Linked DNA regions of Homo sapiens. The protein of the gene in region 2 purifies or fractionates together with the protein of the main gene of each other region. This does not show direct contact. Each region holds a gene or a part of one and is shown on either strand. Other genes may lie near its edges. The genes, in order: NAA15, CREM, IARS1 and GCN1.

Region 1 (7,823 bases), on a different chromosome or scaffold from region 2:
TGCCTCAGCCTCCCAAGTAGCTGGGATTACAGGCGCCTGCCACCACACTCGGCTAATTTTTTTTTTTGTATTTTTAGTAGAGATGGTGTTTCACCATGTTGGCCAGGCTGGTCTTGAACTAGTGACCTCAAGTGTTCTGCCTGCCTCGGCCTCCCAAAGTGCTGGGATTACAGGCATGAGCCACTGCACCTGGTCCTATGTAAGAGTTTAAGGAAGACTTGTGTTTGCCAGAAGCTGGTTTTTTTTTTTTTGGTCTGGTTTTTTTTTTGTTTTGTTTTGTTTTGTTTTGTTTGTAATTACAAACTTTTAACTTATTTGGAAAATTAAGTCATTAGAAAATTGTGGCCTTTGCCTACTGTTGATGCTATTTGTTTATCTAAAAGTTTGAGGAGGTTACCAGATATTTATACCACTTTGTTAGGATCTAGGTTAAGGGTAGGAAAAATGAGGTTGCCAGAGTAGAACAAAATCCACACCTTAGATTTTAACCTGCTTGGAAAAGATGGACATATCCTAATGCCTTTCAATCAAGTATTGGTAGGTTGGTTGCTGTTGCTGCTGCTTCCTTCTCTCTTTTTTGCTCTTCAAATGTTAATGTCAGTTATAAGAAAAATCTAAGTTGGGAATAGTTAAAATATTGTACATCAATAAATGTAGTTTTGGACTTTAGCCTGAATGATTTAAATTGTTAGTTGTAAGTGTTAAAGGACAGAATTTTTCTTTCCTAGAAAAGTGGTGAGAGAAGTTAAAATAGCATGATGATTATGTTTGTGATTTGTCACTATTTGCCAGGTAAAATGAGAAATCTACCATTTGCCAGGCTCTGCTCTAGGTGCTTTAGAATAGCACTGCACAGTAGAATTTTCTGTGATGATGGAAATATTTGTTATCTGCTCTAATATGATAGCCATTGGCCATGTGTAGGTTTGTTTTTTGTTGTTTTTGTTAAGACAGGGTCTAACTCTATCACACAGTCTGGAGTGCAGTGGTTTGATCACGGCTCACTGCAGCCTCCACCTCCCGGGCTCAAGCTATCCTCCTAGCTCAGTCTCCCGAGTAGCTGCGACTACAGGCGTGCCACCACGCCTGGCTAATTTTTGTATTTTTGGTAGAGACGGGGTTTCGCCATGTTGGCCAGGCTAGTCTTGAACTCCTGGGATCAAGCAGTCCTCCTGCCTTGGCTTCCCAAAGTGCTGGGATTACAGATGTGAGCTACTGTGCCTGGCCTGGCCACATGTAATTATTGCACACTTGAAATATGGCTAGTGCAACTGAGGAAATGAATTTTTAATTAATCTTAATTTAAATTCAAATAGTCACATGTGGTGAATGGTTACCGTTTTGGACACAGCATGCTTTATTTAGAGTCCTTTCTTAATTCTCAAAACTTTTCAAGGTGGGGACATTTTTATTAAGCAAACAGACTGAGATTAAGGTCAACAGCTAGTGTTAGTTACAGTCTGGAATAAAACTTTTTTTCTTTTCAGGGCACTTAACATCACACCTGCCTAGTGTTTAACTATTTAGGGGAGGGGTGTAGGAGGAGGGTGAGGGAATTGTTAGGCAAAGGAGTAGTAATACTTATTAGGTGGCTGTATACATTGTATAATAAGTAAATTATTATTATTATTATTATTTTTTTGAGACGGAGTCTCACTGTTGCCCAGGCTGGAGTGTAGTGGTGCAATCTCGGCTCATTGCATGCTCTGCCTCCCGGGTTCACGCCATTCTCCTGCCTCAGCCTCCTGAGTAGCTGAGACTACAGGCACCTGCCACCACACCCAGCTAATTTTTTGTATTTTTAGTAGAGACGGGGTTTCACCGTGTTAGCCAGGATGGTCTCGATCTCCTGACCTCCTGATCTGCCCGCCTTGGCCTCCCTAAGTGCTAGGATTACAGGCATGAACCACCGCGCCCGGCCCATTGTATAATAGGTAAATTATTTTATGTGATTTATTTTCTTTGGGAAAGTTAATGTTTCTGCTAGTTAATGATACTTAGTTTAGCTTCAGTTGCTGATGAAATTTAGATTAGGAATTGTTAGCAAGTAGGTGTCCATATGCACATGAAAGTTTAACTGATTAATTTCTTTGTGACAGAATTCCAGTTTTGCAACTAAGAGTGGACAGTAACTTTGAAATTGGTTTTAATATACTTTTGCTTGTACTTCATATATTTAGAATATAACAAAAAATCAAAAAATGGAAACAAAGTTTGGTCTGTTCTGAAATCCCATTCAGCTCTTAGTAGTTAATCATAAGTTTATTTATTTTTTTGAGATGGAGTCTCACTTTTGTCGTCCAGGCTGGAGTACAGTGGCGTGATCTCAGCTCACTGCACTCTCCGACTCACTGCAACCTCCACCTCCCAGGTTCAAGTGATTCTCCTGCCTCAGCCTCCCCAGTAGCTGGGATTACAGGTGTCCACCACCACACCCAGCTAAGTTTTATATTTTTAGTACAGACAGGGTTTCGCCATGTTGGCGAGGCTGGTCTCAGACTGCTTACCTCGGGTGATCCACCCACCTCAGCCTCTCCCAAGTGCTGGGATTACAGGCGTGAGCCACCGCACCCTGCCGGTAATCGTAAATTTAAACTCGGATAAATTATCCCTTAAAAGTATACCAGAAAACAAAATGCAGTTTTGCTATTTTATATATGTGTATATAATGTGTATATAATTATTATAAAAATTACAAAATGATTTTTCTGTAAAAATCGAGTGAGGGCCGGGCACAGTGGCTCACGCCTGTAATCCCAGCACTTTGGGAGGCTGAGGCGGGTGGATCACCTGAGGTCAGGAGTTAGAGACCAGCCTGGCCAACATGGTGAAACCCCGTCTTTACTAAAAATACGAAACTTAGCTGGGCGTGGTTGCAGGCACCTGTAATCCCAGCTACTTGGGAGGCTGAGGCGGGAGAATTATTTGAACCCAGGAGGTGGAGGTTGCAGTGAGCCGAGATCGCGCCATTGCTCTCCAGCCTGGGGGACAAGAGTGAAACTTCGTCTCAAAAAAAAAAAAAAAAATCTAGTGAGAAGTGAAAATCTTTTAATAATGTGGTAAATTTATTCTTTGCTTGCTTTTTAAGTGTGTGTGTGTGTGTGTGTGTGTGTGTGTGTGTGTGTGTGTGTCCAGGATTTCACTGTGTTGCCCAGGCTAGTCCTGAGCTCAGGTGATCCTCCTGCTTCAGCCTGCCAAGTAGCTGAGATTATGGTACATGCTACTGCGCCTGGCCTGTTTGCTTACTTTTTAATTTTTGTCTTTCTGGAGTGAGATGCAGTATGAATGAACAAATATATGTTTTTGTTTTAAACTGACAGCATATATTTTTAAAATTCTGTATTGTGTTAGAAACCTGAAATGTTTTAAAAAATATTTTTTAAAAATTCTTTTGCGTCAATAGAGTGGGTTAAAAATACTTGTTTGTGCAGAGTGACCACAGTTCAGTTTTCAATAGTAGTAGATGGACAACACTATATTTTCAGAAAAGCAGACTAAAGCTTAAAAGGGAACTGAATTTAATGTTCCATTTTTTAGATGTGTCAAAGTCTTGCAGTCCTGGGTCATTATTGGGGCTCAAACTAGTTATTTGATGATAATAGAATTGCCATCCAAACTATTGGAGCGCTGGTTAATGAACAGTTTCCAGAGGGGCGGGCATGGTGCTCGGTGTGATTGGGGGACTGGAGAGATACTGTCCAGCTGGCCTCAACTGAAGGGATCCCTCTCCTTAGTGTGCAGTCTTATATCTTTTAATATTTCTGCTTCTGACAATGAAGTTCTGACAGAGCATTGATTCAAATATATCTTCTTTCTTCATAAAAACATTTTTGGGCCGGGCGCGGTGGCTCACGCCTGTAATCCCAGCACTTTGGGAGGCCGAGGCGGGCGGATCACGAGGTCAGGAGATCGAGACCATCCTGGCTAAAACGGTGAAACCCTGTCTCTACTAAAAATACAAAAAATTAGCCGGGCGTAGTGGCGGGCGCCTGTAGTCCCAGCTACTTGGGAGGCTGAGGCAGGAGAATGGCGTGAACCCAGGAGGCGGAGCTTGCAGTGAGCCGAGATCCCGCCACTGCACTCCAGCCTGGGCGACAGAGCGAGACTCCGTCTCAAAAAAAAAAAAAAAACATTTTTGGACATAAAAAGCTATGTCGTATAAAGGATCATATGCAAAGGACTGTTCAGAATTTTCTCCCCCAGATACCTGTGTGACTCATTTTTCTTATTTGTTTTAGGACTTCTGCTCAGATGTCCTTTATTTTTAATTTTAAATTTATTTTTATTATTATTTTTTGAGACAGGGTTTTGCTCTGTCACTCAGCCTAGCATGCAGTGGCACAATTTTAGTTTACTTCAGCCTCTGCCTCCTGGGTTCAAGTGATTCTCCTGCCTCAGCTTCCTGAGTAGCTGGGATTCCAGGTGCCTCCTACCACACCTGGCTAATTTTTGTATTTTTAGTACAGGCGGGGTTTCACCATGTTGGCCAGGCTGGTCTTGAACTCCAGGCCTCAGGTGATCCACCTGCCTCGGCCTCCCAAAATGCTGGAATTACAGGTGTGAGCCATTATGCCTGGCCTAATTTAAAAAATTTTGAGACAGAGTCTTACTCTGTTGCCCAGGCTGGAGGGCTGGAGTGCAGTAGTGTGATCTCGGCTCACTGCAACCTCTGTCTCCTGGGTTCAAGCGATTCTCCCACCTTAGTCTTCTGGGTAGCTGGGACTACAGGCACATGCCACCATGCCTGGCTAAACAGGTGTCCTTTAAATGTTATTTAGAGACCTTCCTTGGCTAGCAGTCAGTCCTTCTCACCTTATTTTCTTATTTCTTACTTTATTCTCATTTATCAGCTTCTGACATACATTTACTTTTATGTTTATCACGTTTTCCACAATTAAAATGTAGGGTTTATGAAGATAAGGACGTCTGTTAATGGCTCTATTCACATTGGTTAAAATGATGTACCATAGTAGATGTTTAATAAATATTTGTTATGTGAAGTGAGTGTGAAAATAGTGATTACAGGGCAAGAGAGAAAAAGATCTTTGGATTGTGTGCTTGCATAAATTTTTGGAGAAGGGAGTTAAGCTGGGCTTTGGCATTACAGAGTACATTAGTGTATGAAATAATTGTAGGATATTGGGCAGAGCCTATATTATGGTAAGACTTTGAAGTTTAATTTATAAATGAATTATAGTATTTGTTTATATAGCCTTTCATCACAAAAGCATAATAAGAGGAAAATTTTGTTATTGTTTCTTTGGTTTTGGCATTGGAGGAGAAATGGTATCAGGATTAAATGAGTTTGTTGTGAGGAGCCTGCTGCTGTATTAGAATCTTCAGATAGTAGGGCTCAGCCATACGTCATTTCATAAAGCTTTACAACCGATTCTGACACGAAGTCAGGGTTGATGACCACTATATATGATATTAAGAAATAGACCTGTTATAAAATTTAAAATATAAAATGTTAGAAGAGCTGGGCGCAGGGGTGCATGCCAGTTACTCAGGAGTCTGAGGCAGCAAGATTGGTTGAGCTCAGGAGTTGAAGGCTATAGTTTGTGATTATTGCGCCTGTGAATTGCTACTGCACTCCAGCCTGGGCACCATAGCGAGACTCTATCTCTTTAAAAAAAAAATTTGAGGGAAAGTAATCGTAGTGTTAGAGTTGCTTTGTGTTTTTCAGAAAATTTAAAAATCAAGTTTAATTCTTGGTATGCTGGGAAGCTGATGTGGAAGAGAGAACAAGTCACATAACAGTGAGCTTAGCCAGCAATCAGCATTCATATCTAAATACAATTTTGCTCTCTATTTACAGGCAATATCCTGTTGAGGAGACAAACTTAAGATTCTTAGTGAGAAATAGTTCTGAAAAGAATGTCAGTTGCCAATTCTGATAGTAAGAAGGGTGAGTGAAGAGGCTTAAATTCAGTAATAGTTCTCAGTGTAAATGTTAGGGTGTGGAAGGAATTTTATGCTGTGGTTGTATTCTTGACTTTTGGAAATTTCCCTGAAATGCCAGCTGTAGGCTTAAACATCTAAGTTGTTTTATGATACATGCTGTACAAACTTGTATTAAAGTTGTAACTTTAAGAACACTAGTCTAACTTGTTGCCTGTGGTTTTTTTCCTCCTAGGTAAGATAGGAAATTATATTGTTCACTACTTAATATGGCATTAAAATAATCCCTTACACTTTTAACTAAAGCAATCTTTTCTTTCCTTGTTATTTAGAAGTAAAATAGCTTGTAATCCCATCGCTTTGGGAGGCCAATGTGGAAAATCTCTTGAAGTCGGGAGTTTGAGACCAGCCTGGGCAACATAGCAAGGCTCTGTCTCTGTAAAAAATGAAAAAGTTACTTGGATGTGGTGGTGGTGCAAACCTGTAGTCCTAGCTACTTGGGAGGCTGAGGTGGAGGACCGCTTGAGCCTAGGAGTTCAAGACTGCAGTGAGCTATCATCATGCCACTGCACTCCAGCCTGGGTGACAGAATGAGACCTTGTCTGGGGGGGAAAAAAAAAGTAAAATAAAAATTGCAGTGTAAGAATTAAATGATGGACAGGTTGATGTTTTTGTTATCTGATGGGCTCTACTGCACTTTCTTTGGTTAGTATAATATGAACAAATCTTCAGTTGAAATAATGTGAAATTTCTACTGAAACACCTTGGGGAAATAATATTATTTGAAGCCAGTATTATTTTTAATTTTAAAGATTCCATTTGATTTTATTACAGAGGAGATTATGTAAACATTCCTGAGTGGCATCTGTAAGAGTTGTTTTATCTGATTACATAAAAGGAGAAGTGAAAGTTTGCTTTTAAAAACAGTAGACCTAGGGAAAAAAAGCCTGGCCTTGGTTGGTTGTCTCCTTTTACACATGGTTGCTGTTCAAATTCAAAAACTTTTTTTTCCTCTCACAATAAAATGGCTAAAATGGCTTACACTTAAAATGTTACTCTATTTTTCAAAGAGAACTTGTTGGGTAGTACAAGATTACCTTTAATTATCAATGTTTGAGGACCAAGTTAGAATTTTTAAGAAGGGGAACATTAAGCAAAGCAGTATTTATTTAGTATCTATTTTGAGCCAGATTTTATGCTAGACTTTTTACATGTTAGCTGATATAAACTTTGTGACACTCCCTTAAGGAAATTGTAAGTATAGCCAATACTTAATGACTACATTGTTACAGTATATTTCTTTCTTTTTTTTTTTTTTGAGACGGAGTTTCGCTTTTGTTGCCGAAGCTGGAGTGTAGTGGCCGCGTGATCTTGGCTCACTGCAACCTCCGCCTCCCTGGTTCAAGTGATTCTCCTGCCTCAGCCTCCCGAGTAGCTGGGGTTACAGGCATGTGCCTCCATGCCCGGCTAATTTTGTAATTTTAGTAGAGACAGGGTTTCTCCATTGGCTGGCCTCTAACTCCTGACCTCAGGTGATCTGCCCGCCTCGGCCTACCAAAGTGCTGGCATTACAGGTGTGAGCCACCGCGCCCGGCCTGTTACAGTATATTTCTAAATGCTTTATATACAGGTAATTCCACTGTATCGGGACATGGAGATTCCTAAAAGTCGCTGCGCTTTGCAAAATCACGCAATAAAAACCACAGGGCTTATGGGGAAAATGAGTTTGACCACAACATTAAAAAACATTATTAGTGACAGATTAAAAACAAAGATAAGAACTTAAAATGGTAGTACTGTTTTACATATGTTAAATGGTTAACAAATACATAATACTATGATGTAAATATTGCACTTTACCTTGAAAAAGACAGTGCTTGCTTGCAGAAGTGGGCATCTGAAGGATTACAGTTTGTAAATTA
Region 2 (7,823 bases):
AAGCTCCACCTCCCGGGTTCACGCCATTCTCCTGCCTCAGCCTCCCGAGTAGCTGGGACTACAGGCGCCCGCCACCATGCGTGGCTAATTTTTTTTGTATTTTTAGTAGAGATGGGGTTTCACCGTGTTAGCCAGGATGGTCTTGATCTCCTGACCTCGTGATCCGCCTGTCTCGGCTTCCCAAAGTGCTGGGATTACAGGCGTGAGCCACTGCGCCCAGCCAGTGCTGATGCTGTTTTCATGAATAATCACCTTAGTAGGTAGATATAAATTTATAATCACCTTAGTAGGTAGATATAAATTTATTTTAAATTCGGTATACATAATTCTTGGTAAGATGATATTATTAATGTATCCCTCTCGATTAAACCTTGGCTTTTGTAGATATGATTATTATTGTGGTTGTGATCCAGAGATGTATTTTACCCTTAACATTTCTTGAAGTTAAAACATTTTTTCCATCAATAGATGTAAATTATTAAATATGCATTTTTTAAAGTATGCATCTTAATTACTGAATTTATTTTTGTTCATTTTTAAGGTCAGTTATTATCCTTTAAATGCTGAAATTATTTGAACCTAATTGATGACAAAAAAAAAAATCTGTGAGGAAAATGGAGACACGTATACATAGTATAGTCCTTTTCTTGCGTGTTCAAGTAGTTTATCACAGTAGAATGATAAGAGTGGCGACAAGATACCTGATGTGACAAATTCACATACATTAAAAGCTTGATTATCTTTGTGGCATGGGTATTTTCTCCTGTGTTTCCCAGAAGTGTAAGAATAATTCTCATCATTATCTTTTTTTCCTGTGATGGCCCCTGATTCCAAGAGTTTCTAATTCTTTCTGACACTAATTATAAAACAAGAAAGTCTTTCCAACCTCTTCTTTGTTTTATGACTTTTATTGAGGTCCACATATTTCTACTTAGTTTTAACCTGGCTGGTATTGGAAGAAAGTATTGTCTATTATTATTATTTATTATTTAATAGAGACAGAATTCTCAGTATGTTACCCAGGTTTGTGTTGAGGCCCTGGCCTCAAGTGATCCTCTTGCCTCAGTCTTTCAAAGTGCTGGGATTACAGATGTGAGCCACAGCACCCGGCTGAAAGAAAGTATTCTGTTATATTCAGTAGACTTTGTTTGGATTTTGTTAAGTGAACGATTTAATTGTCCTTGTAGAAAGAGGTGCCAGTGGATCTTGTCCTAGAATACTTACGTGTTGGATCATGGTCAAGCCACTTAATCTCTGTGCATGAACTTTAATTTTCACCTTTCTAAAATAGGTAAATTAATAGCCTACCTCACCTAAGGGAGTTGTTATGATTCTATGACAGATGTGTGACAGCCCGGTGTAAAATGATAAATATTTAATATTTGGTGGTGATATATGATTATCTGAGGCAACAACATTTTTCTCAGTCCTGTTGATTGGGTGTGTGTGCTTATGTGTGGGGCGTTCATGAGCAAAAACACGAGTCATATGTGGAGGTGAATATACACCTCCGTGTACTTCGGGAAGTATATATTCTTGCTTGCATTGTTGATATTTTAATAAGCTCTTTTGATTTTGTCCAAATCAATTTCCCATGTAATTATAATATGAAGTGAGTTTTGTAAACTCTGCTACCCTAGGCCCTCAAAGTATTAATAATTGACTGAATATATCAAAATCAGTCATGTTGTTGAAGAGATTCATTATTTTAGTTTTCTGACTTCTTTAATAATCATATCACTGTATTATTACTTGACTTGAAAAATGAAATCATGCTTAAAACTCTGATCTTTCTCTTAAGGAGAAATGCTTTATTTGGATCTTCAAGACCCACCGCCACCAAGCCCTAACTTACTCCTTGTAATAGAAATCCTGATTTTACCCAGGCTTGCTTACTGACTTGCTTATCTACTTAAATATTCTGTCTTGGGCCTATCTGATGGCTAATGTGAAGACCCAGCTCACGCCAGCGCCAGCTGTGAGAGTGTGGGAACAGCAGTGTGATCCGGGAGCTCTCTTCTGCGTTGGCCCCTCGCTGGCTCCCTCCTGGATTCGTAGGAGCACTTTCAGGTTGAGGAGCTTAGGTCTTGGGTATTTTACATTTTGTTCTTTCCTGCAATGCCTCATTTGACATCCCAACCACTCTTTCCCTAGTATTTCTGTAGTATAGAGTACCCGTAACATTCCTTTCCACACACATTTGTTTTATAACTGAAATGTTTGCGTCTGCGCTTCCTTTCTTGAGCCAGACTCCTTCAGTGCAGATTCACTGTGTTCTATTGCTCAGTTGCTTCCACAGCTCCTGGCTCAGTGCTGCACACACAGACTCTTAGCCTCAATTTTTTGAATGAGGGAAAAGAGCATATATTTTATGATACATTTCAGAAAATCTTGTATTATAGGTAGCAGCAATTGCAGAGACAGATGAATCTGCAGAATCAGAAGGTGTAATTGATTCTCATAAACGTAGAGAAATCCTTTCACGAAGACCCTCTTATAGGTAAGTTAACCAAGTTTCCTAATGTAAAGATACTTTTTCCAAAATGGTAGAATAATTATACATCAAATCAATTCTTCCTTTATAGCTTTTCTGTTTTAAGACTTATTCATGTATCTTAGTGACTTACCTTGTTAAATTGTATTTTAGGAAAATACTGAATGAACTGTCCTCTGATGTGCCTGGTGTTCCCAAGATTGAAGAAGAGAGATCAGAGGAAGAAGGAACACCACCTAGTATTGCTACCATGGCAGTACCAACTAGCATATATCAGACTAGCACGGGGCAATACAGTATGTATGCTGCAATTCGATATGATACAGTGCTAGCTTTAAGTCTTCTCTAGTTATATTGAAGCAACTCAGGTTTTGGCATTAAATTGTTCCATTTTAAAATGCATCATTAATACCTAAACTGTATCATAGAATGAAAGTATATGTTAAAAAGTGAGATCTTTGTATTGACAGCTGTCATATAATTTTGAAAAGTAAAAATTTTGACTGCCGAATATAGAAGAAAATTTTGGGGTAAAAAGGAGAATTTTTCCTATTTACATGTTTATATTAATCTCTAGTAAAACATTGTTTTTGTTGTCTTTATGATGCATGCGAACATAAATGTCTGTATTTCATTCTTGTTGGCTTTTGTTACCCACAATTACATACTATTCTTACTAATCTGAGAGTTTTCTAAAGTATGTTTTCAATGTTTCACTACTCTCTACTCTGTTAATTTGTGCTACAGTTTTTCCTAAAAGAGAATGGAAAAATGATTTAATTTTTTAAACTGTAGCAATTGGATAGATAATTTTATTTGAAATTTTACACACTGAAAGCTCTAAATAAACAGATACATTCACATTCAGTCTTGTGCATTTTAATGGACCGTTAATTCTGTGCTTTTTGCTCTGATTAAAGCACTAGTTTTTTTCCCAAAAGAAGAGTGTTTGATACGTAAAAAGCAAGAGCTAGAAAGAAAAGAAAAAGGAGGAGAAAGGTTAGGGATATCACATATCCTAAGCTAGCCCCTTAGGTACTGGAATAATGTGATATTCCTGTCCTTTCTGAAGTATAAATTGTCCATGGAAGTTGTCTAAATCAATTTCCCATGTAATTATAATATGAAGTAAAGTGAGTTTTGTAAACTCTGCTACCCTAGGTCCTCAAAGTAATTGAACAAATATATTGACAGCAGTCATGTTGTTGAAGAGATTCATAATTTTAGTTTTCTGACTTTAAAAAGAGCTACTTAGGTACTGGAATATATGTGATATTAAATAATGTGTTTATCCAAATAAGGTATTAAGATTTTAGATATATTCTTTGTTTTTCCTTTAAAAAGTAGCAATACCAAGAAAAAAAAACTCAAGTCTTAATTTAAGTCCTGACTACTAAAACAAGCTATAATCTTTAATGTATGAGAAGACTTTATATAGTCATTATTTTTGTGGAGCTTTTTAGAGTTTTTCTTGTAGCAGTGGTAGATTTGCAGTAGTAAACTATTAAATACATTCTCTGTTGGTAATTGAGGGGAACTCCTACCATGATACCTAGCAGATCCGGGGTGTAGTGTATTCACACGTTTGACAGGGCACCCAGTAGACTTGTCCAAAGTCAGTGTTAGGAAAAGAAAATCCCCACCATCTGTAAGAAATAGACCTTGAGGTTTACATTGTCATTTTTTTATTACTTCTCTCGTTTACATGCTCTTTTGTCTGGCACACTGGGAATCTCTGGTGGGTTTTAGAACTGTAAAACTGAATATGCCAGCTGATGAGCCTCTACAGCACAGCACGCAGGTTATGAGAGTGCTGAGTGCCTCGTCCCCCCGTCCCCAGAGGGGCTGGGCAGAAGCTGCTGGCGCCTCCTGGCTGGTCAGCCCTGGCCTTGAGCAGCTCCATCCACTCACCCCAGTGGGCTGTACACATGTCATCATGTTCTGTTTGTGTAATGACAGGGAAAAGGTTGGAAGTGACTGCTGAAATGACACTAAGACTTCTCAAAGTGTTGGGAACCACTAAGATGCTGTCATCGTAACATTTCTCTGGCATATGCTAATGCTACTTAGGACTTCTGATAGAAGCAGTGATTCCTTTACAAGTTGATAGGGAAGCAGATGCTGTAGGGTTAACTTGTCTAGATTATTAGCTGAAAATTTGAAATTGTGAAAATGTATGGGGTTGAAGCTGGAGAGGATGTGGAAGGAACCATCTTTGTGCCATTTGCAAACTCAATGATCAGAGCAAGAAGCTTTATTAAATTCACATCTCAGGTTTTAGTCTTTGAAGTGGGAATAATACTAAATTGCCAAACTCTGGGGTTCCTGTGAAGACAAAGGAGATAATGGGTAAAAGTAGGGGGAAAAAGACATGCTACTATTGGCATGAAACAGAGAAATTAAGTTAGGTGTACCATTGTCTCATTCATGTTCATTGAACTTTCCCTCCAGCCAGCCCCAATGGCTTCATTCCCTGTGTCCTTGGTACCTGCTCACAGCAGGGGGCTGGCCTTAAACCTCACTCTGTGTGTCTGTGGGGGGGATGAGAGGAGCAGAGTCAGGAATTTTGGTTGAGAACTAGAAAACTGCATCTGTAGAAATTAGATCTTAGGCCAGGTGTGATGGCTCCCACCTGTAATCCCAGCACTTTGGGAGGTCTAGGCAATGAGGGTTGCTTGAGGCCAGGACTTTGAGACCAGTCTGGGCAATAGAGTGAGACCCTGTCTCTACAAAAGAATTTTAAAAATTAGCAGGGTGTGGTGGTATGCGCTCATCCCAGCTACTCAGGAGGCTGAGGTGGGAGGATTCTCTGAGCCCAGGAGTTTGAGGCTGCAGTGAGTTATGATTGCACCACTGCACTGTCCAACCTGGGCAGCAGAGTGAGACTCTGTCTCAAAACAACAAACAAAAAAAACACATCTGTCTATTTGCCACATAAGAGGTCATGGACTATTTCTTACTTTGGTTTCTTAATTTGAGTCTATACAGTATGATCCTAGAAATTATTCTGATGAGAAGTTATAGTTCTGTATGTACAGTCTGCAGGTAAAAATTGCCATTTGTTCACACAATGTGAATTTCTTTTGTTAAAAATGCATTTTGGGGACATTTAGTGAAATATATGTAGATAATTCTTTGAGAAGTGAATACTAACAACATTCAAACTTTTTAGAAGACGTTTACTTTAATTGGAGGGTAAACATACTTACACACACAACATCCATTTTTATTGATCTTATTTTTTATAGAACTAACTTAGCAGATATTAATGCTTTAATGTTGTAGCAGAATGTCTAGAAATGGAAACAATTGCCAGTTTCCTTTGGTTTTTGAATAGAGGAACGTATTTTATTAGAATTTCTGGAGATTTTCCTATTTTTTTCCTTCCCTTTGAGCTGTAAATTTTTTTTAATGCTCTTTCATAACCTTTTATTATAAAAAAAAATTTTAGGTTTAATTGTTCAGCTTTTATCCATGGATGGCTTTCTCCCAAACTTTGCTTTTATTTCTTTTTTTCCAATATTTTATTAGTTATTTTTAATTTGGAATAATGAGTTAGCTGGTGTTTAAAAGAACTAAATGTGTATCAAAGTTGAAGAAATAAAGTATATTCAAGTTTTCCCATATACAAGCAGTTACATTTTTAATAGTTGAAAGATATTTGGCAGAAGTTGGCCTTATTATATTGACTTACTATTATCACAAAAACTAAAAAGTGAAAGTTGGAATAGGCTGCTCCCTGGGGAGTAGGAAAAAGCATAAAATAGACAGGGATCCATTATTACAACACCAAGTAAGTGAGCTGTACCTGCAGAATCCTCACTGGAAGTACAGATCTTAGTGATAGGTGTGTTGCATAACAGTTGAGCTGGTCGAAGAAAGTCTTTTATTTCAGAAGCATATACCCGAGAGATGGCGGGAGAGAGACAGCCTTAGAATTAACAAAGAATGTTACTTGCTGCATGAGACAGTTAAGATAGGCAGTAAATGAGTGAATTTGTAAAAGCAACCGAGGAAATTAAAATGTTTGAAGCTTCCTAATTCATTAAATTTCCTCTTGAAACAAAGGTTACTTAAATCCTCCATCCTACTATACCCAACCTCTTCCTGTACCAATTAAAGACTATCACCCAAGACTTCAGTTTTTTTCCCACAAATGGCCCTTGTCTCTGCTTGTGCCTATTGTATTTTACGAGGAATCTTATTAGAGTATTAACTCATCTTTCTGGAATTCTTATACATGAAAGGTAAGTGGGTCAATCTAAACTGCACCATTATGAAAAGAAAAATATGAACTTTGTGGACTCCTTATAAGAATTCAGAATTCTCAGGAGGCTCACGAATAAGCACCAATTCAACTTCTTCATAAAGGGAATTAGAACATAATAGGCTTACACATTCGAAAGTTAATCCAGTTGCAGTTCTTAATAGTGACGTTGTTTACATTTCTCTAAGGCAACTGTTTCAAAATTTTTTAAGGCACTACTTAATGTAACTCTGGCTTTTAAACTTTGATGTTGCTATTGTTGTTATAGCATGATTTAGTCTTCCTTCTGCTATAATGCACCTCTTGGCTTTTAAGGTACAAGTACTCATAGGTGCTCTCTTATGGTCACTCTGAATTTAAACCTGAGAATTCATTGGAACAAAGGTCTGTTTGCTGCTGTTTTTAAAGTTAATGCAGTGAGATTTCATTTATGAATCTTTGGATTGCAATTTGGAACAAGAGTGGTTTTAAATATAAACATTTACATGTGTATGTATTTTAATTAGCTCATGTGTATAAATTTAGGATTAGAAGTATATAACATGGGCCGGGCGTGATGGTTCACGCCTGTAATCCCAGCACTTTGGGAGGCTGAGGTGGGCGGATCACCTGAGGTCAGGCATTCGAGACCAGCCTGGCCAACATGGTGAAACCCCATCTCTACTGAAAATACAAAATTAGCCGGGTGTGGTGGTGCACACTTGTAATCCCAGCTACTTTGGAGGCTGAGGCAGGAGAATCGCTTGAACCCAGCAGGTGGAGGTTGCAGTGAGCTGAGATCACACGATTGCACTTCAGCCTGGGCGAGAAGAGTGAAAGTCCATCTCAAAATAAATGAACAAATAAATAAATAAGAAGTGTATAACATCGCCAGGCTTGGTGGTTTGTGCCTGTAGTCCCAGCTACTCAGAAGGCTGAGGCAGAAGGATTGCTTGAGCCTAGCAGTTTAAGACCAGCTAGACCAATATCAGGATGTGGGGCAACACAGCAAGACCCCATCTCTTAAATAAATAGCTAAAATAGAAGATATGTCTAAATTCATTCAGTTAATTTCATCTTATT
Region 3 (7,823 bases), on a different chromosome or scaffold from region 2:
TTTTTAAAAGTATGGATAGTGTCATGTACACCCATGTTAATAATATGGTACTCTGTTATTCCTAGATTTCTCTTTTGACAGTAATAAATTTGATTTCTTTTGCAGCAACAAAATGCTTCAACAAGTTCCAGAAAACATAAATTTTCCTGCTGAAGAAGAGAAAATCTTGGAGTTTTGGACTGAATTTAATTGTTTTCAGGAATGCTTAAAGCAATCAAAACATAAACCAAAGTATGTGAATTTTTTAGGTTAAGTTCCCTTAAGAATAGTCATTTCTTAGACTGAATTCCATTAAAGCAGATACTTTTTTTTTTTTTTTTTTTTTGAGATGGAGTCTCGCACTGTCATCCAGGCTGGAGGGCAGTGGTGCAATCTCTGCTCACTGCTACCTCTGCCTCCCGGATGCAAGTGATTCTCCTGCCTCAGCCTCCCGAGTAGCTGGGATTACAGGTGCCCGCCATCACACCAGCTAATTCTTGTGTTTTAGTAGAGACGGGGTTTCACCATGTTGCCCAGGCTGGTCTCGGACTCCTGACCTCAAGTGATCCACCCACCTCGGCCTCTCAAAGTGCTGGGATTACAAGTGTGAGCCATCACGCGCGGCCTAAAGCAGATACTCTTTATTAATCTTTCTATTCCCAGAATCCCCCAGCTCCCTATGTAGTGGGTACTCAGTAGTAGATATACATTGAATGAATGAGTTCTCAATTATTGGGGTAAATTTTGTTTCTTTAAAAGGTCATCTGAGTAAAATTTATGTGTCATCCTCCGTGTCACCCTCTTTCCACCTTTATTTTCATCACCACCCTCGTTTAGGCACTTATACCTAAGTACCCCATAGAAGGCTACTATAGTACTACCTGCCTTTAGTCCTCATTCACCTAAAAGACTAGTCCTTTAATCAGTGTTTTCATTATATGTCTCCTCTGGTCAAAAACTATGAGATAGGGGTTTATTGCCCTATTTTACTGATGAGATAACTCAAGATCAGGATAAATAATTTGCCTTATGTCATGGAACTAATAAATGAAAAATGGATAATCAAATGGAGGTCTCTGTAGCTCTACCACAATTGTAGCCTTTCTGAAGGCAGGACCACCAGTAAATATCAAATCAATTATGTCTGTCGGTTTCCTGATCTTGCTGCTTTTCTCCTTGAAGACTCCACTATGACAAGAGCTATCTATAGAAAAATGCCTTAAATTTTGGCTGTTTTTAAATGGCTTGATATATTTTTATTACCTGTTAGATTTACCTTCTATGATGGTCCTCCTTTTGCAACTGGACTGCCTCACTATGGACATATACTTGCGGGTACAATTAAAGATATAGTTACAAGATATGCTCACCAGAGTGGGTTTCATGTTGACAGAAGATTTGGATGGGATTGCCATGGCTTACCTGTGGTATGTTTGAGTATCCAGCTTTATAATTTTCTGATTTTTTTTATAAGCATTAGATTTTGTCATATAATATGTTCAAGTATGATGAACGTTGACTGTCAGACCTTCTAGTTCATTTCTATAATATTTGTAGTTTGATTTGTTTTGTTTTCTAGAGTTGCATAGTTGCAGTTGTTTTCATAGGGCAGCGTGGTAACAGTCTTATCACAAATTTTCAGGAATATGAAATTGATAAGACACTGGGAATCAGAGGACCAGAGGATGTGGCCAAAATGGGGATTACAGAGTATAACAATCAGTGCCGAGCAATTGTGATGAGATATTCTGCTGAGTGGAAGGTATGTTGGGTTTTTTTCAGTAGAATGAACAGCAAATGTAGTTACTAAATGGGCATTGAAATGGTTTATGGTCCCTTGTGCTTTTTTTATTAATTTATTTTTTGTAGAAAAAGTGTTAGCTTCCACCTTCAACCCTATTACTTAAACGGTTAGCTTAAACTGAACCATCTCTCTTCTGACTTCTGTGTGCTTAATTGGTCTAACTTTCTTGCATGATCACCAATAGGGAAAAATTCTAATAAGTATAACATGATATATAGGCCTTTTCTTTTTTTCTCAAATACTTTTTTCAATTTTTTTAACTTTTCATTTTGAAATAATTTGACTTATTAAACAATTGAAAAAGTAGTATGATGGGTTCCCCTATATCCTTCATCCATCTTTCCCAGCTGCTAACATCTTCGGTAACCATAATATTAATAGAATTTTCAAAAGCAGTTGCCCCATTAATTTTTATTTCTGACCAATCACATATTGCATTTGGTTGTCATGTCTTTTTAGTCTTCTTAAGTATGGAACATTTATTTAGTCCTTTGTATTTCATGGCCTTCTCACTTTTGAAGATTGCAGAACAGCTATTTTCTATAATGTCTCTCAATGTGTGAGGTTTCCTGATTTAATTTAGGTTATGCATTTTTGGTGACAATGCCACAGAAGTGATGCTATGCCCTTCTCAATGCATTATATCAGGTGGCATGTGTTGCGGCTATGTCACATTGATGGTGATAACTTTGTTCACTTGGTTAAAGTGCTGTCAGCTTTCTGCTTTGTAAAGTTGTAGTTTTTCCTTTGTAATTAATAAGTATCTTGTGGGGAGATTCTTTCCAAATATTCTTTTTTTTGTCATACATTCACTTATTAATTTTAACATCCATGGATGGTTTTTGCCAGTAATAATTATGCCTGTGATATTTGCCAAGTGGTGGTTTTGGTAGACTTTTATAAGTGAATATTTATACTTGTAAATAACATTTTGTGCATGTAGGATGAATGCCGAGAAAACTGGTTCTTAACCTTACATAATATGTTGTTGGCAGTATAGATTTACTTGTACCATTGATTATTCTGTTTTCCCAAAATTTTCATTTGTGATGACAACAGAAATAAACACACATTGATGTACAATTATAAATATCATTGTCTAATACTGTTCTAATATTAATATTTTAAAGTCTACTGTTAGCAGACTTGGCCGATGGATTGACTTTGACAATGACTATAAAACTCTGTATCCACAATTCATGGAATCAGTCTGGTAGGTTTATTTAAAATTGTAAATATGGTAAATATTCTATTCTGTTGTATTGATAATTGGAAAAATGCACTAGCATGAATCAGTTTATTTTTGAGTCCATCGTTATTTCTCTGAAAATCTTTGGGAACAGGTTTGTTTTTGAATGTAGAACTTTTATTTTTATTTTTTTGAGACTGAGTCTCGCTCAGTTGCCCAGGCTGGAGGGCAGTGGCACAGTCTTGGCCCACTGCAACCTCCGCCTCTCAGGTTCAAGCGATTCTCTTGCTTCAGCCTCCCAAGTAGCTGGGATTACAGGCGCCCGCCACCATGCTTGGCTAATTTTTGTCTTTTTAGTAGAGATGGGGTTTCACCTTGTTGGCCAGGGTGGTCTCGAACTTCTGACCTAGGTGATCCATCCACCTTGATCTCTCAAAGTGCTACGATTACAGACGTGAGCCACTGCGCCCAGCCTGCCAGTTGCTTTTCTTAACATTATGTGTTAAATATCATTCGATATCAGTAGATATTAGCATTTTAATGTCTGCCTGATGTCTTACTATATTGATCTGTTATAATTTACCAGCCAGTCTCCCAATGAAAGACATTGTTTTTTCACTTATTTGGCAGACAGAAACTCTAAAAAGAAAATGGCATAAATGTTTGCATTTTCAGAAATAGAATTTTGTTCTGTAATTGTGAAACTCCATCTCTTACCAGGTGGGTCTTCAAACAACTCTATGATAAAGGCCTTGTTTATAGAGGTGTGAAAGTCATGCCCTTCTCTACGGCATGTAACACTCCACTTTCCAACTTCGAGTCACACCAGAATTATAAGGTACGTGAAATGTAGAGACATTATTCAGCATTGAGTTTTGTAGGTGGAAGCTGAGTAGTTATGATCACAGTAGGTATTCCCAAGTAGACCCAGTGTGGAATGTTGCCCACGACATCCACCACTTTGACCACTTCTTACTGAGTGCTGGAAATATTGCCAGTTAGTATACTAAGGCTCTGTTAAGATGAGGGATTTTTTTTCCACATTGGATTTATGATGTGTCTTAATGTGATAGGTTTTGCTTGTTTTGACCATATTTTTGTGCCTCTCTGTTGGGTTAACAAGTCCAGCTTTGACATACTTCCTGTAGTCATCGTTTCTTAAGGGTTGAGTAATTTTATGCCTTATCTGGGACCTCATGATATCATTTATTTGTTAACGGTATTTGGAAAAAAATTAATTTGAGATGCCAAATGGTATTATTTTTCCTCTGATGAGATAGAATCAGTTGTTGTTGTTGCTATGATTGAGGTGTTTAGACATGTTTGATGTTTACAGAGTGTATTGTTATACCATATCTAGACAGATATTATATACTAGTAAGTCTTCTGAAATGTGAACCATCTCTTCTCGTGTGTATACTGAGTTGTTTTCAGTTTTGAGAGTTTATCTGACCCTCTGTTTTTAAAGGATGTTGACTTGTTTGGAATTCTTGTTTCATGGCCTAGGTTTGAAAATTACATTAGTAAAATTTGCCTTTCAAAGCACGTTTTATTTATAGAATGCTTTCACATATCCTGTTTGATTGATCTTTGTAAATCCTTGTAAGGCAGGTATGATGATTTCTATTATCTCCTTACCACCTCTCTGTGCTCATGTTTGTATTTTTTTAGTAAAATATTTTAAGCACTTAACAATGTAGAGAATGATATGGTAAACACAAGGTTTCCAAGGCTTACCTTTGTCAAATCTTAATATATTGCTATATTTGGTTTTTGTTTGTTTGTTTGTTTGAGTCAGAGTCTTGCTCTGTCGCCCAGGCTAGAGTGCAGTGGCGCGATCTTGGCTCCCTGCAACCTCCACCTACCCGATTCAAGCAGTTCTTTGCCTCAGCCTCTGGAGTAGCTGGGTTTACAGGTGCCCACCACCACGCATTTTTAGTAGAGACAGGGTTTCACCATTTTGGCCAGGCTGGTCTTGAACTCCTGACCTTGCGATCCACCCACCTTGGCCTCCCAAAGTGTTGGAATTACAGTTGTGAGCCATTGCGCCCGGCCTGTTTGGTTGTTTTTTAAAACACTTGAATGTGGACAGTTTCAGGGACATGCAAAAGTAAACAGAATGGTATAATTAATTTCTGTAGGCCCATTAAGGCCCCCAGCACCAATGACTGGCTAATCTTGCCTCATTCATACACATATTCTTTCCCACTTTCCTTCCAATTCTGAAACAAATTCCAGATATCATATTATTTCATCAAGAAATAATCCAGTATAGATCTTTCATAAATAATCTTTATCTTCTTTAAACATTGCCATGTTAGCATTCGTTGTCACACCTTAAAAAGTCATCAGCAGTTACCTTTTTGTTGTTGTTGTTGTTTTTGAGATAGGATCTCGCTATGTCACCCAGGCTAGAGTGCAGTGGCACGATCTCGGCTAACCACAGCCTTGACCTCCCGGGCTCAAGTGATCTCCCCTTTCAGCCCCCTGAGTAGCTGGGACTACAGGAACATACCACCATACCTGGCTAATTTATGTGTTTCTATAGGAGTGGTTTCACCATGTTGCCTGGGCTGGTCTTGAACTCTTGGGCTCAAGCAGTCCACCCGCCTTGGCCTCCCAAAGTGCTGGGATTACAGGTGTCAGCCACTGCACCTAGCCACCTTTAATAGTTTTTATTTTAATATTCTCAAATTATGTAATTCCTGAACATCATCAGTTCATATTTCTAATGGTTTAATCATTTCCCAAGGGGTTATATTTTATTTTTATTTATTTATTTTTTTAAATCAGGATCTACCAAGACTTAAACACATGGTGACTGTTGTCTTTTAGGTCTTGTACACGTTTCAGTTGGTTATATAACAAGTAGTGGAATTATCGAGTCAGAGTATACTTTGTTTTAATTTTTATTTTTTTGAGACGGAGTCTCACTCTGATGCCCAGGCTGAAGTACAGTGGTGTGATCTTGGCTCATTGCACCCTCCTCCCAGGTTCAAGCAATTCTCCTGCCTCAGCCTCCCGAGTAGCTGGGATTACGGGTGCCCGCCAGCATGCCCAGCTAAGTTTTGTATTTTTAGTAGAGACAGGGTTTCGCCATGTTGGCCAGGCTGGTCTTGAACTCCTTACCTCAGTTGATCCACCTGCCTCAGCCTCCCAAAGTGCGGGTATTTTTACAGGCGTGAGCCACCACGCCCAGGTGAGTCACAGAGTATACTTAATTTTTAGTTCTAATACTGAGGTTGGGAAACTTTCCTCTGCAAATTAAATATTTTAGGCTTTTCAGGCAAAGTGTTCTCAATTTTGTCACCATTCTTAACTCACCCACTGTATGAAACAAGTGATGAGCCAGATTTGGCCCAGGGGCCATGGTTTGCTGACCTCTATTCTACGCGGTCTGTATATTGATTGTTAACCAAGGGTTTTTAAAATTTTTTTGACTTGACCAAGCACAGTGGCTCACACCTGAAATCCTCGCACTTTTGGAGGCCGACCTGGGCAACATGACAAAACCCCATCTCTACTAAAATTACAAAAATTAGCTGGGCGTGGTGGCGTGAACCTTTAGTTCCAACTACTCCACAGGCTGAAGTAAGAGAATGACATGAGCCCAGGAAGTTGAGGTTGCAGTGAGCCGAAAGTGTGCTACTGCACTCCAGCCTGGGTGACAGAGTTAGACTCTGTCTCAAAAAAAAAAAATATATATATATATATATATATGTGTGTGTATGTATATATGTAAGTATACATATATATGTATTGGCTTAAAACTTTTATTTATTTATTTTTAGAGAAGGGATTTCAGTCTGTCACCTAGGCTGGAATGCAATGGTGCAAACACAGCTCACTGCAGCCTTGACCTCCTGGGTTCAAGTGATCCTCCAGCCTCACCCTCCTGAGCAGCTGAGACCACAGATGTGCATCACCATGCCCAGAAAATTTTTTTATCTTTGTAGAGATGGGATCTCACCATATTGCCCCAGCTGGTCTCAAACTCCAGAGCTTGTGCGATCCTCCTGCCTTGGCCTCCCAAAGTGCCAGGATTATAGGCATGAGCCACCGTGCTAAAAAATTTTAATTTTTTACAAAAATTAGCTGGGCATGGTGGTGCACACCTGTAGTCCCAGCTATTCAGGAAACCGAGGCAGGAGAATGCTTGAACCTGGGAGGTGGGGGTTGCAGTGAGCTGAGATCACGTCACTGCACTCCAGCTTGGGTGACAGAGTGAGATTCCATCTCAAAAAAAAAAGAAAAGAAAAAAATTAATTTTGATGTAGTTTCAAACTCACAGAAAAGCGGAGAGTTCTTTATATCCTTCAACTAGATTCCCTAAATGTTAACCTTTTACCACATTTGCTTTATCCTTCTCTCTTTTTATGGGAGTGGGGCACAGTACCCTTTGAGAGTAAGTTGCAGGAATTATGGCCCTTTTCCTCTAAAAACTATATATTTCCTAAAATCAGTAACATTGTTTGAAATAACTGGAGTTAGAAAATTAACATTGATGCTGTATTACCTCATGTGTAGATCTTATTGGGTTCTGCTTGTCCCAGCAGTGTCCTTTATAGTTAACAAGAAAAAAAGAAGGAAAGAAAAACAAAAAAGACCTACATTGTGTGCTTCATGCAGTGGTATGTCTCCAGCCTTCTTTAATCTTAAAGAGCTCTTTAGTCTCTTTATGCCTCATAATACTGACATATTTGAGGAGGTACAGGCCAATAGTAGTGTCTCTTATTTCAAGTTTGTCTGATGTTTTACATGTGACTAATGGCTCTCGTGTCACTTTATTTAAATTGCAGTTGGTTTTTGTTGGGGATTGATTTTTTTTTTCCTACCTTAGAGCTATTTATT
Region 4 (7,823 bases), on a different chromosome or scaffold from region 2:
GGGGGTTTGTGCTGCCCTCAGGGATGAGCCAGTCTCACTCTGGGGAGGTGCTGGCTGGGCCACATGGACTTGAGGCTCCGTCTTCTCAGCTTTCCTGTCAGTTTTGCAGGCTAAGAGCTAAGTGATTTGGATGCCTCCTTGAGTGGCCTTTGGAAACTGGAGATGATCGCTCTCTTACAACTGTGGAGGTTGCTCAGGATCAGTCTCTTTTGTGATGCTATATAAGTCCAGTTAAAATGTGTGCACCTCCTTCTGGGAAAGGGGATGGACAGCTGTGTGAGTGGGTAGGGCAGGAGGGTGCGGGAGGGGGTGTGCACTCACCCTTAGCAGGAGGGGAGCAGGTAAGAGTTGTGGTGCCAGGTGGGAGGAAGCATATTGCGTCTGGCAACAATACTGTTTCCATAGCAGCAACGTTCAAGGGGTGTGAAGTCCATTACTCTTACTTGGTTCCTGAGTTAAATGATCCTGGAGACCACCCTGGGGAGTAGGTTAGGAGTGCTTTTAGGCACTGCCTTCGTGTTTGGATGAAAACGCCAAAGCAATTAAGTGGATGGCCCGCTAGAAATGTAAGCAAGTGGCCAGTTGCTTGGCTTGGGCATCCTTGTCTGAATTCCTAGGATACCAGATCCCTCTTCTCCTATATTGATGTTTGTCTTACGTTTGGTTTTTAAAATTTACATTTGGCAAGGAATCAAAAGAAATTCTGTCATCAGAAAGAGTTGTGATTCATTGGAGAGGTAGAGTTCCACAGAGGCTGAGTTCTTGTCTGCAAAGTCCCCACAGTCCAATGGCAAGGCCCACATGCCAACCAGTCATTAGAATGCAGAGTGGGCTTTGCTGTGCTGGGATCGTTACTGAGGGAGCAGAGCCATTATTGGCTCCATTGTAGACCCAAAGACTTCATAGAGCACAAAGTCTGGATTGAGACTTGAAGAAGGACTTGGAGTTTTCCAAGAGAATAAGCAAAAGAAAGAGTCCAGGGAGAGAGGGGGCCAGATGCCATGGGAAGGAGTTTGCAGTTCTTAGAGAAGATGGGAGGTATATTGAGAATTCACCTAAAAGATTCAAGCTGTTGATTATTAAGTCTCAGTGAAGGATACATGGGGGTGCATCACATCCTCTCTGCTTTTTTTTTTTATTGAGACGGGGTCTTACTCTGTCACCCAGGCTGGAGTGCAGTGGTGCGATCATAGCTCATTGTAACCTTGACCTTCTGGGCTCAAGTGATCCTCTCGCTATGGCCTCCTGAGTAGCTGGGGACTATAGGTGTGCACCACCACACGTAGCTAATTTTTGCATTTTTAGTAGAGGTGAGGTCTCACTATGTTGCCCAGGCTGGTCTCAAACTCCTGGCCTCAAGTGATTCTCTTGCCTCCACCTCCCAAAGTGTTGGGATTACAGGCGTGAGCCACTGTGCGCGGCCCCTCTCTACTTTTTAATTTTTTTAAAATTTTTAGTTTAAGACAATCTCACTCTGCTGCCCAGGCAGGAGTACAGGGGCACCATCTCTTTTGGCTACAGCCTCTGCTTCCTGGGTTCAAGCGATTCTTGTGCCTCAGCCTCCTGTGTAGCTGGGATTACAGGTGTGCACCACCACACCCAGCTAATTTTTGTATTTTTAGTAGAGATAGGGTTTTGCCATGTTGACCAGGCTGGTCTCGAACTCCTGGCCTCAAGTCATCCGCCCACCTTGGCCTCCCAAAGTGCTGGGATTACAGGTGTGAGCCACCGTGCCCGGCCCCTTCTCTCCTTTTTTTTATTTCACAGTAAAGAGTTAAGTTAAAAGACAAGTCAGGCAAAGAGAGTTAGGGTGGCCTAGCTGGGTCAGAGTCCCCTGCCTGTGCTTCTTGTCTGCTTCTGCTCCTTCTTTGCCTTTCCTGCATCTGGTACAGTTGTAGCTTGCCATTGCAGGTGCTGTATTTCTCTGAATCCCTCGTGCCCACGGCAAGGAAGGCTTTGTGTGACCCACTGGAGGAGGTCAGAGAGGCGGCAGCCAAGACTTTCGAGCAGCTGCATTCCACCATCGGCCACCAGGCTCTGGAGGACATTCTCCCATTTTTACTAAAGCAGCTGGTGAGTGGATCTACCACACACCTACCTACCAGTTTGGCTTTTGCCGTCTTTGTAGATGGAAAATACAGGGCGATTATTCTGCCAAGGCAGTCGCAATGTGGGCCCTCCAGAGGGAGTGGGTATAGCAAGATCAGACTTGGCTTTGTGCTTCGCCTTCGGCAGTGAGGAAATGTGGGTGCAACAGGAGGGAGGGAAACAAGTGGAGAAGGAAGTTGGCGGTGGCTGGTTGAGACAGCAGAGATGCAGATTCCTCAGGGTTGTCCCCAACACCCTCTGCAGGATGACGAGGAGGTGTCAGAGTTTGCCTTGGATGGTCTGAAGCAAGTCATGGCTATTAAGAGTCGTGTGGTGCTGCCCTACCTTGTGCCCAAGGTAAATCCCAACATGTGGTCAACACCCTCTGGCTCCAGGGCATTGACATTTCCAGGGCCTGCAGTGAAGACCAGTTCTGAACGTAGATGTTGGAGGGCTGGGGGAGGAGGGTGCAGTGCAAGCATTACATCCTTCCCCTGTTGTCTTCCAAGATATGCTGGAGTAGATGCTTGGCTCTGAGCAGTGGGCTTGGGCTCTCTTGCCCACCCGTCTGTTCCCAGAGCCTAGCGCAGCACCTGGCACAGTATTCACTGAGTTAATGTTTGTCATTCCACCAGCTGACAACGCCACCTGTCAACACCCGGGTGCTGGCTTTCCTTTCGTCAGTGGCTGGTGATGCCCTCACCCGTCATCTTGGCGTGATCCTCCCAGCGGTCATGCTGGCCCTGAAGGAAAAGCTTGGGACCCCAGATGAGCAGCTGGTAAGGGGCGAGCCTGCTCCTGCTTTCTCATGTCCCGTCTGCCCGGAGGATCCCTGCTCAGCACACATGTCCCTTGTGGTTTGCAGGAGATGGCCAATTGTCAGGCTGTGATCCTCTCCGTAGAGGATGACACAGGGCACCGGATCATCATCGAGGATCTGCTGGAGGCCACCCGCAGCCCTGAGGTGGGCATGAGGCAAGCTGCTGCCATCATCCTCAACATCTACTGTTCCCGCTCAAAGGCTGACTACACCAGCCACCTGCGGAGCCTGGTCTCGGGCCTGATCCGCCTCTTCAATGACTCCAGCCCTGTGGTTCTGGAGGAGAGCTGGGATGCCCTAAATGCCATCACTAAGGTGAGGGGACTGCTGACCCCACAGCCAACTTTTGCTTTTAGAAAATTCCAGACATTTACAGGAATAGACTTATAAGAATCCCCCACGTACCTGTCACTCAGCTTCGGCGTTTACCCACTCGTGGCAAGTCTTGTTTATACTCCCGCCCACGCTTTCCCCATATATTCTTTGGAAGCAGTCTTGAGAGGGCTGTACATCCTCTCGCTTTTTCCTGGATTCCTGCAGAAGCTGGATGCTGGCAACCAGTTGGCACTCATTGAAGAGCTGCACAAGGAAATCCGGCTCATAGGGAACGAGAGCAAAGGCGAGCATGTGCCAGGATTCTGCCTCCCGAAGAAGGTAAGCCAGGGCCTCGTGCAGGGGGCTGTGGGCGTGCAGTCTGTTGTGCCCTTCTGGCCCTTACCCCTGTCCCAGGTCTGCGGTAGGGGCTGCTGGAGCAGTAGCCGTGGTGGTTGGTGTTCAGCACCTTCGCAGACAGCATGTTTTCTTCCATGGCAGTCAGATGGGGACAGGGTTCATGCTGCCTTTGGTTTAAGCTCTGCAGGTCACCTTGGCCAGAGTGAGTGGGCCACAGGGTAACAGCAGTGCATGTTCTCTCTGTGTGATAGGCCTGTTGGGGCCCTTGTCGTCTTTTCTCTGCCAAGACCGTTCCATAGCCAGCCCTCTCAGGCTGTGATCCTGAGATTCAGCCCAAATCAATATCTCCCATGGAGTTGAGGGGAGGACAGCTGTCAGGACCACTTTGCTTGCATGGGAGACACCAGGGCCCAGGGTGTTTGAGATTTGACTCTCAGTTGTGGTTCTCTTGTCAGGGAGTGACCTCCATCCTTCCAGTGTTGCGGGAAGGAGTCCTGACTGGCAGCCCTGAGCAGAAGGAGGAGGCAGCCAAAGCCTTAGGCTTGGTAATCCGCCTGACCTCGGCTGACGCCCTGAGGCCCTCCGTGGTCAGCATCACTGGCCCTCTGATCCGCATCCTGGGGGACAGGTTCAGCTGGAATGTGAAGGCGGCTCTGCTCGAGACACTCAGCCTCTTGTTGGCTAAGGTGAGTGGCTGATGAGTTTGTTCAGATCTTAGAGAACAGGTCTGTCTGCAGGAGCCTGATACAAGGTGTCATGTAGCAGCAGGGCAACAGATTTATTGTGGAGAGCCGCATAGCAGAGGGAGGTAAGACCTTGGACTTCAGACATGCTACACCATGGGTCAATTCCAAGTCGTCCTTACTAGCTCTGTGACCAGGATGACCTTGGGAAAGCCATATAACCTAAGCCTGTTTCCTCACCTACAATGTGAGACTAATAATACCAGCTGCCTCATGAAGGGCTGCTAGATATGGGGATTAGATGAGGTTATGTCCAGCATGATGCCTGCTACATACTAAGCACTCAGTACATGTGAAATGCTATTATTTTGAAAAACTACTTTTTCAAAGGAAAAAATTCAGGACCACGTAAATACAAGGAAAACATTGTTTAAAGATATTGCAGTTTTTGTTTTTTTTTGTTTTTTGTTTTGTTTTGTTTTGTTTTTGAGACAGAGTCTAACTCTGTCACCCAGAGCTGGAGTGCAGTGGCGCGATCTCGGCTCACTGCAACCTCCGCCTCCTGGGTTCAAGCAATTCTTCTGCCTCAGCCTCCCAAGTAGCTGGGATTACAGGTGTCTGCCACTACACCTGGCTAATTTTTTTGTATTTTTAGTAGAGACAGGGTTTCACCAGGCTGGTCTCGAACTCCTGACCTCGCACAGCTCAGATTTACCAGCTCCCCCTATCCCCTTTGTGTGCCTGCCACAGCCTGCACACCCACCCAACTCCAGTATTTCCAGACCTTCATTGGCACTGAACCTCCAAACAGTCACTCTGGTTTTCCTAATTAACAATAAGTAAGCCGGGCGTGGTGGCTCAAGCCTGTAATCCCAGCACTTTGGGAGGCCGAGGTGGGCAGATTACCTGAGGTCGGGAGTTCGAGACCAGCCTGACCAACATGGAGAAACCCTGTCTCTACTGAAAATACAAAATTAGCCGGGCATTGTGGCGGGTGCCTGTAATCCCAGCTACTCAGGAGGCTGAGGCAGGAGAATTGCTTAAACCCGGGAGGCGGAGGTTGCAGTGAGCTGAGATCGCGCCTTGCACTCCAGCCTGGGCAACAAGAGCGAAACTCCGTCTCAAAAAAAAAACAAAACAAAAAACAGTAAGTAAATCTTTACTCTTGGACCCACCTGTATTGTATCAAAAGTGTGCCTGTGTTTCTGTATAGTCAGGGGTTGAACTGGATTTTTAGTTAGGTGGGTACACATTTGTGCAGGGAGGATTCTCCAAGGTCATTTGTTTCACAGGCTTGTTCTGAGGGCTGAATGTGGAGTGCGTATCCTGCTGTCAGTTGCTCAGTAGATGGGCTCTGCAATTATACACTGAGTCCCTTTCCCTGTCTTGGCATTAGAACTGTGCTTCAGTACTGCCGATAGTCTGCCCTGCTTGTTAATGTATTCAGAGGAGGATTTGAGTCACTTATCGATATGGACAGGTCTCCACTAAGCCAAACCCCAACGCAGCCAAGGCTGCGAGACAGCTCCCTCAGATAGCGGCCGCCGCCTCCTCGGCCTCCTGCTCCTCCAGTGTATCAAAGCATGCTGGATATGACCAGGAGGCCAAGCGAAACCTGTCTGTGTTTGGCCTCTCTGACGGGCTATCTGTCCCCAGCCCTGTATGAGAGCTGGACTCGCTGTGGTGGTTTGGGATTGTCATTTGTTCTCATGCCTGTGGTACACTGTGGCTTTGGGTCTACCACAACTGTCTTTCATGGATGTGGGTTCCTCCCACAGGTTGGGATTGCCCTGAAGCCCTTCCTGCCCCAGCTGCAGACCACTTTCACCAAAGCCCTGCAGGACTCCAACCGGGGGGTGCGCCTGAAGGCCGCAGATGCTCTGGGGAAGCTCATTTCCATCCACATTAAGGTGGACCCCCTCTTCACAGAGCTGCTCAATGGCATCCGCGCCATGGAGGACCCAGGTGTCAGGTACGGCGCTGGCAAGGGAGCACTGTGGCCTCCAGGAGGCCAGGGGTTGCTGTGGGCCGAGCCTGCGCTGGCAGGAGGGGTGGTGGTGGAGGCACCCAGGGCTTAAGGCGGTGCATTGCTTCTGCAGGGACACCATGCTGCAGGCCCTGAGGTTTGTGATTCAGGGAGCAGGGGCCAAAGTGGATGCCGTCATCCGGAAAAACATCGTCTCACTCCTGCTGAGCATGCTGGGACACGATGAGGTACGGCTGCAGGCAGGACTAGTGGCAGCACTGGACCACTGGTTTCCCTCCTCCTCCTTAGGTTGAGTTCTTCACTTTGTGTTAGAACCAGTACAGCTCAGTAGTAATAAGCATTCCTGACATTTCTATCACCCTGTATGCTTCACCAACATTTCCTCGGGTTTCAAGGGAAACGGGGCAGGTATTGTGGATATATTGGTTATTTCCGTTTGTTTGTTTGTTTTTTGGCTGAGTCTTGCTGTGTCACCCAGGCCGGAGTGAAGTGGCACAATCTCGGCTCACTGCAGCCTCCGCCTCCTATCAAGCGATTCTCCTGCCTCGGTCTCCCGAGTAGCTGGGATTACAGGTGTCCGCCACCATACCCAGCTAATACTTGTACTTTTAGTAGAGATAGGGTTTCACCATGTTGGTCAGTCTGGTCTCAAACTCCTGACCTCAGGTGATCCACCCGCCTCGGGCTCCGAAAGTGCTGGGATTAACAGGCATGAGCCACCGCGCCCGGCCGGTTATTTCTATTTTATAGATGAGGCAAGTAAGCTTTGTAGAGACCCAGACCTCTCACCTATTTGCTCTCTGATCTTAAAGAAGTCACTTTCTCTGTCTGCCTCTCATTTCCACTTTTGTAAAATGAAGAGGTTTATTTATTGTTTTGTGAAACATTTGCCGAGCTAAAGGGCCTATCCCAGAGGTGCATAGACCTCGTGGTCACAGACCTCAAGAAACTTAGTGTGTAGTGGGATAAATGGTCTCCAGGGTGTGTCCCGGTGGCAAGTCTTAGAGGTCTATTTTCGAGGGTGAGACTTGTCTGGGCCATACCCAGCAAGTAGTAGAGTCCAAACCAGAAGCCCTGGACTCCTGGTTCTGTCCCAGTTCCATCAGCCTCACCTAGTCTGGAAGCATCTGTCAAATATTTGGCTGCGAGCACTGTGGGGCCAGTAGGGAGTTGAGTCTATGGAGAAGAGTTTTCTGTTCCCTTTTCAGACAGCCCTCTGTTGTGGTCTAATTTACTTTGTAGGGCCAATCTAGGAGGAGAGGGCCTTTGGGCTCACATGGTTTTACACGTCATTGACACACACACACACCCACACACACTCCTCCTGCCCACACCTGCAACACACACACTTGCTGCTGCACTTCCCATGGCTCCAAAGGCCTAGTTCTGGTCCCCAGGCGCCAGCTGTCGGACTCCAGCCCCAGCCTTCTCTGTGGGGACAGACAGGAAAGTCTGCTGTCTTGGTCACAGTCTTTCAGGGCTTCTACAGAGTCATGTGTACAGTGCAAGCAAAAGTTAGTATTGAAACATATTTGCATTTTACCACAGTGCAGCTTAAAATAGATGAAGTTGG

What was found.
Region 1: the proteins of CREM (region 2) and NAA15 purify together in Homo sapiens (affinity purification with mass spectrometry, with the first as the bait; one study listed by BioGRID). This does not show direct contact.
Region 3: the proteins of CREM (region 2) and IARS1 purify together in Homo sapiens (affinity purification with mass spectrometry, with the first as the bait; one study listed by BioGRID). This does not show direct contact.
Region 4: the proteins of CREM (region 2) and GCN1 purify together in Homo sapiens (affinity purification with mass spectrometry, with the first as the bait; one study listed by BioGRID). This does not show direct contact.

What each region holds. Positions count from the first base shown.
Region 1 is NC_000004.12:139,306,340-139,314,162, forward strand, and holds part of NAA15 (N-alpha-acetyltransferase 15, NatA auxiliary subunit), read left to right. Parts: intron 1-7,823. UniProt on the Homo sapiens protein: Auxillary subunit of N-terminal acetyltransferase complexes which display alpha (N-terminal) acetyltransferase (NAT) activity. The NAT activity may be important for vascular, hematopoietic and neuronal growth and development.
Region 2 is NC_000010.11:35,176,487-35,184,309, forward strand, and holds part of CREM (cAMP-responsive element modulator), read left to right. Parts: intron 1-2,385; exon of another isoform or gene 2,386-2,402; coding exon 2,403-2,500; intron 2,501-2,647; coding exon 2,648-2,790; coding exon of another isoform or gene 2,791-2,843; exon of another isoform or gene 2,844-3,361; intron 3,362-7,823.
Region 3 is NC_000009.12:92,281,709-92,289,531, reverse strand, and holds part of IARS1 (isoleucine--tRNA ligase, cytoplasmic), read left to right. Parts: intron 1-105; 5' UTR 106-112; coding exon 113-231; intron 232-1,249; coding exon 1,250-1,406; intron 1,407-1,558; coding exon of another isoform or gene 1,559-1,621; coding exon 1,622-1,741; intron 1,742-2,913; coding exon 2,914-2,996; intron 2,997-3,692; coding exon 3,693-3,810; intron 3,811-7,823. UniProt on the Homo sapiens protein: Catalyzes the specific attachment of an amino acid to its cognate tRNA in a 2 step reaction: the amino acid (AA) is first activated by ATP to form AA-AMP and then transferred to the acceptor end of the tRNA.
Region 4 is NC_000012.12:120,132,945-120,140,767, reverse strand, and holds part of GCN1 (stalled ribosome sensor GCN1), read left to right. Parts: intron 1-1,911; coding exon 1,912-2,073; intron 2,074-2,352; coding exon 2,353-2,445; intron 2,446-2,723; coding exon 2,724-2,867; intron 2,868-2,953; coding exon 2,954-3,223; intron 3,224-3,448; coding exon 3,449-3,562; intron 3,563-4,035; coding exon 4,036-4,266; intron 4,267-6,041; coding exon 6,042-6,235; intron 6,236-6,362; coding exon 6,363-6,477; intron 6,478-7,823. UniProt on the Homo sapiens protein: Ribosome collision sensor that plays a key role in the RNF14-RNF25 translation quality control pathway, a pathway that takes place when a ribosome has stalled during translation, and which promotes ubiquitination and degradation of translation factors on stalled ribosomes.